Regions from separate parts of the Homo sapiens genome. Here all the other regions are reported to be linked to region 2. The links are microRNA targets in miRTarBase. Many come from high-throughput screens and were not tested one by one. Region 2 holds a microRNA gene; each other region holds the end of a gene's coding sequence.

What was found. Region 2 holds the annotated microRNA hsa-miR-7973 (UGUGACCCUAGAAUAAUUAC, at 1,362-1,381, shown strand). A microRNA usually pairs through its seed, bases 2 to 8, with sites in the 3' UTR of a target mRNA and lowers its output. Matches are read on the target gene's strand: a 7mer-m8 pairs with bases 2 to 8, a 7mer-A1 pairs with bases 2 to 7 and ends in A, and an 8mer does both.
Region 1: the mRNA of MTMR4 is a reported target of hsa-miR-7973. Seed matches in the 3' UTR shown: 7mer-A1 at 846-852 and 8mer at 1,557-1,564.
Region 3: the mRNA of ZNF562 is a reported target of hsa-miR-7973. Seed matches in the 3' UTR shown: 7mer-m8 at 2,938-2,944.

The regions. Positions count from the first base shown.
Region 1 is chr17:58,488,970-58,492,228 of GRCh38, reverse strand. MTMR4 (myotubularin related protein 4) reads left to right here. Exons shown (of 18, transcript NM_001378067.1): 18 at 389-2,692. The coding sequence ends at 566. Among named protein-coding and RNA genes, the nearest start is that of HSF5, 2.2 kb to the right of the region's middle.
Region 2 is chr15:51,312,673-51,315,931 of GRCh38, forward strand. It overlaps MIR7973-1 (microRNA 7973-1), which reads left to right and starts at 1,362; the gene lies at 1,362-1,437. All of the region lies in intron 1 of CYP19A1 (cytochrome P450 family 19 subfamily A member 1), which reads right to left. It overlaps MIR7973-2 (microRNA 7973-2), which reads right to left and starts at 1,435; the gene lies at 1,360-1,435.
Region 3 is chr19:9,650,116-9,653,374 of GRCh38, reverse strand. It overlaps ZNF562 (zinc finger protein 562), which reads left to right. Exons shown (of 6, transcript NM_001130031.2): 6 at 1-3,259. The coding sequence ends at 426. Among named protein-coding and RNA genes, the nearest start is that of ZNF562, 23 kb to the left of the region's middle.

The DNA.
Region 1 (3,259 bases), not on the chromosome of region 2:
CTGCACTCCATCCTGGCAACAGAGCAAGACTCTGTCTCAAAAAGGACAAAAAACAAAAACAAAAATAGTGTAATACATATGTATAGAACTAAGTGGAATTAGTTTGGAAGTGGACACCTCTTTATAGAAACTATTTTTGTTTGTCCCCAACTTTTCATTTAGTATCACTCATTCTCAGTATATTGGCATTTCTTAATATTAATTAATTAATTATTTTTTTATTAGCGATGGGCTCTTGCTATGTTGCTCAGGCAAGTCTCAAACTCCTGGCCTCAAGCGATTCTACTGCCTCAGCCTACCAAAGTGCAGGGATTACTGGTGTGAGTCACCCTGCCTGGCCAGTATATTGGCATTTCTGATGAACTCTTCCCTCTTTCTGCTTTGACAGAAATTGTGGGAATGTATTTTGTGCTGGATGCTGCCACCTGAAGCTGCCCATTCCTGATCAGCAACTCTATGACCCAGTTCTCGTCTGTAACTCATGTTACGAACACATTCAAGTCTCTCGTGCCAGGGAACTCATGAGCCAACAGCTGAAGAAACCCATTGCTACAGCTTCCAGTTGAATGCCGGGGAGAAACCTGTCCAATTTTAGCAGGTTTGAAGGGAGGATCTTCTTCAGTTGTAGTTTGGAAGGTTCCTTGGTGTGGCTCATGAAATCACAGAGCTCAGAGATACCATCTTGAGAAATCCTCCTTGGTATCATGAAACTGGAGCAGAGGAATTGCAATTTAGCAGGAGGTCCTCTACTGGTGATACCCTCACCTTGGGGTAATGGTCCTAACCCAGACCCAGGGTCTGGAAGCTTAATGTTGAGTTGGTGACTCCAGCCTCTTTCTCCTGGAGGTCACAAGATGATGATTGCGTAGATGTTGCCTGGTGCAAAGTGCCCCAAACAGCAATAGAAAGGCATATGTATAACCAAACTCCAAGTGATAACCAGACCCATCTCTCCTCCACCTTGACAAAAGCAGATTATAGTATACAAGGTAGGAATTCCTGTCCTATTTGAGATGAACTATATCCTGTACCTCTGTGCTCTGTGTCTGCATGAAGGCTCAGCCTTTAGAGGCACTCCTTCTAGTTGCATTAGTACTGTCTTTCTGTGGAGTTTGGTTTGAAGACTGGCTCAGCAAGTGGAGGTTTCAATGTATTTTTCAGTTGGCTCATCAGCCAGCATTGGTGAATATTCAGTTTAGGGGAACAGTTCTAGGGAGTGAGACATTTTTGGGAGCAGAGGAAAACTCTGCTGATGTTCGGTCCTGGCAAACATTGAGTTATTTTGAGCTGTGAAGGCAGTCGTCTCTGTTACACAGTGGCAGCTCTTGAGTTATGCACTGTGAAGAATGAGAAGGGAAAAGCAAAAATTATCCTTGTGAAATATCTGCTGATTGTGCCCTACTCTTTGCACCTGACTTTTCCTAGTTGTCCTGGTGCTAACACAGGAGCTACACCTTGATCCTCTCCTGGCATGAAAATAAAACAAAGGTTTTCGTTGTTGTTGTTCCATTGCCCATTTCCCCCATGTTGTCTTTCCCTTGGCTGATGCCTCCTCTGGGTCACATTGCTTCTTATCCTGAACACTTGACACCTTGAGGGTAGAATTTAGCGTTTGGTTTTTACCTCCTAGCATATGCTGTTTGGTATGTGAGGGTTTCAGTACAAATGCTGCTGTCTATTTCTGTGCACTTAACAATGGAACCCAAACAGAAGAGAATAAAGCCTTGATACCAAAATTGGGAAAGAACATGTGTCCATTTGGACCAAACGTTGTTGGTTTTTAAAAAATTTTATTTTGTTTTTTTGTTTTTGTTTTTGTTTTTTTTCATCTTAATATGTACCAGTGGCACTTAACCAAAAGATACAGTGATATAGCCATGTACTGTGGGTGGGACAGATACAGTCTCCTTGGCCTATAATGAAACCACTAGGACTTTATACAGTTTTCCTTAATTTGTTGACATATAAATGGTAAATTATATTTAGGCTTATCCTGTTTTGAAATGATGGTAGTCATCTTTCTTACTGCTACTTTCATGTTGCTTTCTAGAAAACAGCATTTCATTCCAAAATAACTAGGATCTGCATTTAGAACAAGAATCATTATTTGTCCTGACCTTTTCAGTCCTACAGAGACGCATCTGTGGTTCTTTTGTACTTGCCATAGATGTAACCTAAAAAGTTTTGGCATATTTAGGTCAGCCTAGCGGAACTTTTTTTTTCATTTAAATGGAGCTGAATAATGGAGATTTTGTGTCTGCAAAATTCCTGAGATCATTGAAAAAGTAACAAGCTGTTCCTTGTTTCTGATACATAAAATTATTTTAAGCATTTTATCAATCATTAAAATTTACTGCCAGTTGTGAGTGGCTTTTTAATTAACTTGTCTTTCATTGCACTTCACTCTGCCTGTTTTCAAGGGGAGTAAGATTGGTAACATTTGGGGAGACTGTATCTGTCTACTTAGCGTGGCTGTTTTGAGGGACTGTCCCATCAGTGAACAAACTGCATGGCCTTGGAGAGAGACTCTGGGCTCTTGGCTCAGATGTGTTCATCAAATACTCCTTTCAGAGCTGTTGTGGGTGTAAGTGACATGATGTGGCCAAAAATCCAAACTGTGCAGTTGCGTTGTGACAAACATGCAATGTGCTGTAAAAATTCAATACAGTTTAAATAAAATCTCTATATTAGTGCTGCTTTGTTGGGTCGTTTTATTTTCATTTCTAAAAAAACTTAATATTCACTTATTCTTTGACCATGAGAAGAGTAGAACATTGTACCCCTTTCTCCCAGCAATTTCCAATTTATTTATTTTGAGATGGAGTCTCCCTCTGTTCCCCAGGCTGGAGTGCAGTGGTGCGATCTCGGCTCACTGCAACCTCCGCCTTCTGGGTTCAAGCGATTCTCCTGCCTCAGCCTCCTGAACAGTTGGGACTACAGGTATGCTACCACGCTGGCTAATTTTTGTATTTTTAGTAGAGACAGGGTTTGACCATGTTGGCCAGGCTGGTCTCGAACTCCTGGGTTCAAGCAGTCCACCCAGCTCGGCCTCCCGAAGTGTTAGGATTACAGACATGAGCCACTGCGCCCGGCCAATTTCCGTTTTCAAATGAACCTCTCTTTTTGAATCAGCACAGCTCTTGTTACATTCTTATTTATTGATTGGCTAGGGATCGATTCTTATGGATACCGTAGAATTCTGTCCCATCTTTATTTCTCTTTAATGTCTAAAATGCCACCAGCTAGTTGGGCAGGCACA
Region 2 (3,259 bases):
TCCAGATAGAAACATGTTGCTGAGAGCTGGCTCCAAACCCTTCTCTCCCGCTTCCATTCCCTCCTTTGCCCTGAGGCAGATGGCTTGGCTTGGAGAGGCTCTCTGGTGTTAGACGCAGCAAGTTTTTCTTTCCCACACCCCATATATGATGGCTCTTTTGAAAATATCTTTCCTCCCCTCCCTCCAGCTGCTTGTGAGGGTGCAGGGCTTTAACTCAAGCAGACTTGGGGATGGATGGGACTCCTTCAGGTTTCACTGTTGACTGGCCTTGAAGAGCTTTGTGGCTTGGCCCCCACTTGCTCTCCTCTCTGCCAAGGCGTTGTGGTTCCCTCCCACTCTTGCACCTTCATGTGGCCCCCACTCTGCCCTGGTGTGCTGGAGGTCATCTTCCCTCCCTTCATGAGCCATTTTCAGCTCATTTTTTGGGCATATTGTCTCTTCATTTGCAAGAAAAAATACAAAGTAGTCTCTGTGAGTGTGATGATTCTGAGTCATTGCATACTGTCATCATTCTAGAACAAAAAGATGTCAAAAGGTGAGTGGATTGATTTCATCTGCAAGGGAATAGGCCTTCTCTTCTTTGTTTTATTCTCTTCTTTGTTTTACCCTTGATGACTCATTCAACCTGAATCAAAGCTGAGTAGTCTTGGCCTTCAAATAGGAGGCTGGGGTGGTGGGGAGCAGAGCAGAGGCACCACCTAAACTGGGGCCATAGGCCTGAACCTTAGGAGCCATGTTCTTATGGCATGGAGCCTGCAGAAGGGGCTGAGAAAATAGAGAGGTAGCATGCAGAGCCCTTGCTCACGTTTGGACCTCGGTTTTCCCATCTATAAAAAACTTAAGGCCAGGCACAGTGGCTCATGCCTGTAATCCCAGCACTTTGGGAGGCTGAGGTGGGGGGATCACTTGAGGTCAGGAGTTCAAGACCAGCCTGGCCAACATGGTGAAATCCCATCTCTACTAAAAATACAAAAATTAGCTGGGCATGGTGGCGGGCATCTATAATCCCAGCTACTCAGGAGGCTGAGGCAGGAGAATCACTTGAACCTGGGAGGCGGAGGTTGCAGTGAGCTGAGATCATACCACTGCAGTCCAGCCTGGGCGACAGAGTGAGACTCTATCTCAAAACAAACAAAAAACCTCAAAAGGATCACACAAGAGCAGGTTGGGAAAGGGCTGGGGTGCGTGGTCTCAGTGTAAATATTTCCCTGACTGACTGTGCTTTCCTACCTTGGAATTGGAACCTTGATTCAAGAAAGGTTCAACGCTCACCTGGCTTAGGAACCTGGAGAGATGGAGAGAACAGGCTTTGCTGTCAGACAGACTTAGGTTTGGATACTCCCTCTCCTCCTTCCTCGCTGTGTGACCCTAGAATAATTACCCAACGTCTCTGAGTCTCGGTTTTGAGAGGGTGAGTAATTATTCTAGGGTCACACAGCCAGGAGGGAGCAGAGGGAATATCCAAACCTAAGTCTTCCACGGCCTTGGATTCATGTAGTCTCCCTGATGGGTTTGCTGGCCTCACTCACCAGTGCGGCCTATGAGGCAGGACTCTGCAGGAGCCTAGAAGTAGTGAAGCAACACCCTGGGACAGCAGCTTTCAACATGGGGACTAGACCACAGCAGGAGGCCTATGAGAATAAAAGTATTGATTTTGGGAAAGAGGGACTTTTTGCCTTTATCATGGTGGAAGCCAGTATCTGTGGAGTCTCAGGCATGTTGGGCTTTTAGTGGTCCACAGACCCCCTGAGGTTCCTACATAGGTGGCCCGGGGGTCCATGAAAAGCTCTGTGCCATTCTGGGAGAGTGATGAGATTCATCTCTGTAGTCCCTCCTTTCAATAAGAGTTTTAGTAACACCCCCTGGAGAATCAGTTCTTTGGGACTCTCCCAAGAAAACCATGACCAAATCATGCTAAACAAATCACACACTGTTCTGCCTTAGAACTCTAACTTGCATCATTGTTTAGCCTGGAATGTCCTCTCTACCCACCAAAATCCTACCCATGTCGGAGACCCAGCTCCAATTCTAACTCTTCTAGAAAGTCCTTCAAAATCTCTCTAGCCCATTGCAATTTTTCCTTGCTCAAAACACATGGTCATGCCACCATTTTCTTCCTGGAGAATGGCTATTGCTTTTGTTTGTCAGCCTCTGTCTTTGTTTCTTCATAAGTGTTGGTTTCCTCCATTTTCCTCATTTCCTACTTCCGACCCAGTCTCCAAACCTGTTGGTTGTACCTCTTAAAGATGTCTCAAATTCCTCAACCTCTCTGCACCTCTCTGGGCTGTTTCCTGGTTCAAGCCACTGTCCCTGGCAACAGCTCCTAATTGACCTCTCTGAATCCGATCCTGCTTGCTTTCATCCACTCTCTACCCCGAGGCCAGAGGACTCTAACATACAAATCTGCTGCTTCAAGCCCTTTATCTCACTGGCCTTGAGATAACACAGAAACTCTCCAACAGGCCTTTCAAAGTCCTTCACTTACGGGCCCCTGCCTACCTTGCTGGTTGTGTTTCTCAACACTCCCCACCTTCACCACCACCGTCACCCAGGCCTGCTGCAGTCCGGTCAGAAGGTTATGCGTGCTTCTGCACATTCTCTCCATGGGGAGTACACTTCCGTCCCAACTGCCAGACCCCTCATGGTGCATGCTTAGCTCACACATACTCAGTCTTCGGGTTTCCACTGTAATGATATCTCACCCACTCAGCCTTGCCCACCCTACCCCAGTCTACACCCAGAGTACCCCCTCCCCTCCCCATCACTGCAATCTTCATTTCATTTTGTAGTTGCTTGTTTACTTGCCTCTGTCCTTCACTAGACTACAAGCAATTTTAGAGCAAGAACCATATCTGCACAGTTTACTGTTGTATACCCAGTTATATGGTTCTTGCTCTAAACCCAGTGCCAGGCTCAGTGTCTGCTGTTGGTAGAGGCTCAAGAAATAATTCTTGAATAAATGAATGAAAAGTAGAATGAACCTATACATCCAGGCCCTCAAGGGCAGTGACTATTCCTCATGCTTCCCTGGATCTCCCTTCAGTGCCTAATTCAGGGCCCTGCAGATTCTGGGTGCCAAGGAAAGGAAGTGATTGTTTGCTCTTAGCAAAAAGGCCTCGTTATTTTAATAGCACGCTCCTCTATTTCTTCATGTTTCCCTCTCTTCAGATGGAAACTTGAACTACGTGCTGGCAAGAATGTGGCTGACAACACGGTGACCTGGATCTGCCTCCAGGGGTGCTGGCAGAGCAGGGCTCTC
Region 3 (3,259 bases), not on the chromosome of region 2:
AAGTCCTTTGAATGTAAAGAATGTGGAAGATCCTTTAGAAATTCCTCATCCTTTAATGTTCACATTCAAATTCACACTGGAATAAAACCACACAAATGTACGGAATGTGGGAAAGCCTTCACTAGATCAACTCACCTTACTCAACATGTAAGAACTCACACTGGAATAAAACCCTATGAATGTAAGGAATGTGGCCAAGCCTTCACTCAGTACACGGGCCTTGCTATACACATACGAAATCACACTGGAGAGAAACCCTATCAGTGTAAGGAATGTGGGAAAGCCTTCAATAGATCTTCAACGCTTACTCAACATAGAAGAATTCACACAGGAGAGAAGCCTTATGAATGTGTTGAATGTGGGAAGACCTTCATTACTTCTTCCCATCGTAGTAAACATTTGAAAACTCACAGTGGAGAAAGGTAAATGCAAGATATGTGGGAAAGAATTTCTGTATTCCTCACCCCACCTGTGAACTCCTACCAGAGAGAAACCTTTTGTATGTAAAGAATTTGGGAAAGCATTTGCTCTTTCCTCATGCCTAAGTATGCATGAAAGAATTCACACTGGGGAGAAATACTATGAATGTAAGGATATGAGTGTTGTTACCATTTAGCCCATTGGTTGCCATCTTTAATTATTGGCAGTGCAAAGATCATCAGATTAGTCCTAAATGCCTTTTGGAGGTTGTAATGGCTCACAGATTGGCCTTAGATGCATCCCGAGGGTCTGAAATTAAACCTACAGGTTCTGAATACAACATCATGGTTACCTGAGTCTGGGCATCTGTGAAGAAGGGTCATGGATGGTGAGGTCAGTACTGCAGGCTGCCTCACCTTGGTGATTAGATTCCTAAGATCATAGCATTAACAAGTTCTGTACGAGATAAATCATGCAGATTGATCCCAGCCCCTGTTGGTTAGTGGCTGCCAGTGTGGCACATTCATGTCAAAATTTACCAGAAGCCAAGATGATGTAGGCCCCAGAGGTGGATTGTTAAAAAGATGCTCCTCCAAGGTTCTCTTCTGTTCCCATGGATCCTGCAGAGCATGTCAGGAGTGAAACCATCCATAACTGCCAGTGCCCTTTCACAGCTGATTATTTCTATGTCCCCTTCTTGTAAAATAAGAAGTGTGACAACCTTGACTGTTCTGTTCTGTCTTCTCTGTCCATTTTAGGTGGCACAATGTAAGTGGCAGTGTCTCTTATAGTATAATCCAGTCTCTCTTCTCACTTCTGTTAAGATGGCTGATATAGTCCATGAATCCCACTCATGATCTCTTTATCAAATGATTGTTCAGCCACACTTTGAGGATTCTCTTCAGTACAAGTTTTCTAATTTTTGCAGTATGGATAGGCTGAGAATTTTCCAAATCTCCAAGTTCTGGTTCCTTTTTCCTTAACAATTTCTTCTGCAATTCAGGTCTCCTTTTGCATTTTTGCCGAGACCAGCTGGGTCGTGGAGACCCTAACCCAGTGGCTCTAGAGGAATTAAGACAAAGACACAGAAATATAGTGCAGAGTGGGAATCGGGGCTCACAGCCTTCAGAGCTGAGCTTGAACAGAGTTTGACCCACATATTTATTGACAGTAAGCCTGTGATAAACATTATTCCTATAGATTGTAGATCAGCTATAAGTATTCCTTATGAGAAAGAAAGGGACAGGCTCTGGCTTGTTATCTGCAACAGGAATATGTCCTTAAGGCACAAATCACTCATGCTATTGTTTGTGGTTTAGGAATGCCTTGAGCAGTTTTCCAGTTTTCTGCCCTGGGTGGGCCAGGTGTTGCTTGCCCTCATTCTGGTAAACCAGCAGCCTCCAGCATGGGCGTCATAGCCATCACGAGCATGTCACAGTGCTGCAGAGATTTTGTTTATGGCCAGTTTCTCATTGCCTGTTTATGGCCAGATTTGGGGGGCCTGTTCCCAGCACATTTTCCTGTAAGCACTCAGGAATAATGAAGCTTCCTGTGTCCTTTAACACTTTAATTACAGATCTTAGTGATACATACCATTTTATCTGTCTCAAGCTCTACCTTCCGTAAAATGCTAGAATACAGTTCTGCCAAGTTCTTCACCACTTTATATCAAGGGTTGTCTTTTCTTCATTTCCCAATAGCATGTTCCTCATTCCCCAATGACACCTCACCAGAATAACCCTTACCAACCTTATTTCCAGCTTGCACATCAGAATTTTTCCAGCCTCTACTCATTTGTCAGTTTCAAAGCTGCTTCACATTTTTAGTTTTTTTGTTTGTTTTTAATTGCAGTACCTCACTTCTCAGTACCAATATCTGCCTTAGTCAGCTCAGACAACCATAAGAGAATACCGCAGACCAAATGGCTTAGAAATTAATTTAATTTTAAATCAATGAGGTTAAAAACACAGGATTTTTTTTTTTTTTTTTTTTTTTTTTTTGAGATGGAGTTTTGCTCTTGTTGCCCAGGCTGGAGTGCAATGGTATGATCTTGGCTCACCGCAACCTCCACCTCCTGAGTTCCAGTGATTCTCCTGCCTCACCCTCAGTAGCTGGGATTATTGGCATGCACCACAAACCTTAGCTAAGTTTGTATTTTTAGTAGAGACAGGGTTTCTCCATGTTGGTTAGGCTGATCTCCATGTTGGTCAGATCTGACCTTTGGTGATCCACCTGCCTTGGCCTCCCAAAGTGCTGGGATTACAGGCCTGAGCCACCGTATCTGGCCCAAAACACAAATTTATATTCTCACATATCTGGAGGCTGGAAGTCTGAGATCAGAGTGCCAGCATGGTCAACCTCTAGTGAGAGCTCTCTTCCTGGCATGTAAGTGCCCACTTCCTCATGTTTTCACACGATGGAGACCAACAAATAGGTCGGTCGGTCTCCCCCCTCCCCGCCCCCTTCTCTTTTCACATACAGTCACATTGAGGTTTGGAACTTCATATGAAATTTGGGGGGTCACTGTGTGTGTGTGTGTGTGTGTGTGTATGTGTATATATATATACATATATATACACATATGTATGTATACCTAACTCCTAAAGTGGAACAGTAAGAGTCATTATTTATAGATTATCTGATTCTCTATGTGGAAAGAGAAAAGAATCATATTAAGTACTTTGGACTGAACAATGACCCCCAAAATTCGTATGATGATGAAGCTCTCTCTAAATATTTTCTTGCTTTACTGGACTGATTTTAACCCGCTGCACAACACCAACTAAAAGTAGTAATACCAGCATACTTGTCTTTGCAGTTCTGGTGAGATATGCACTCT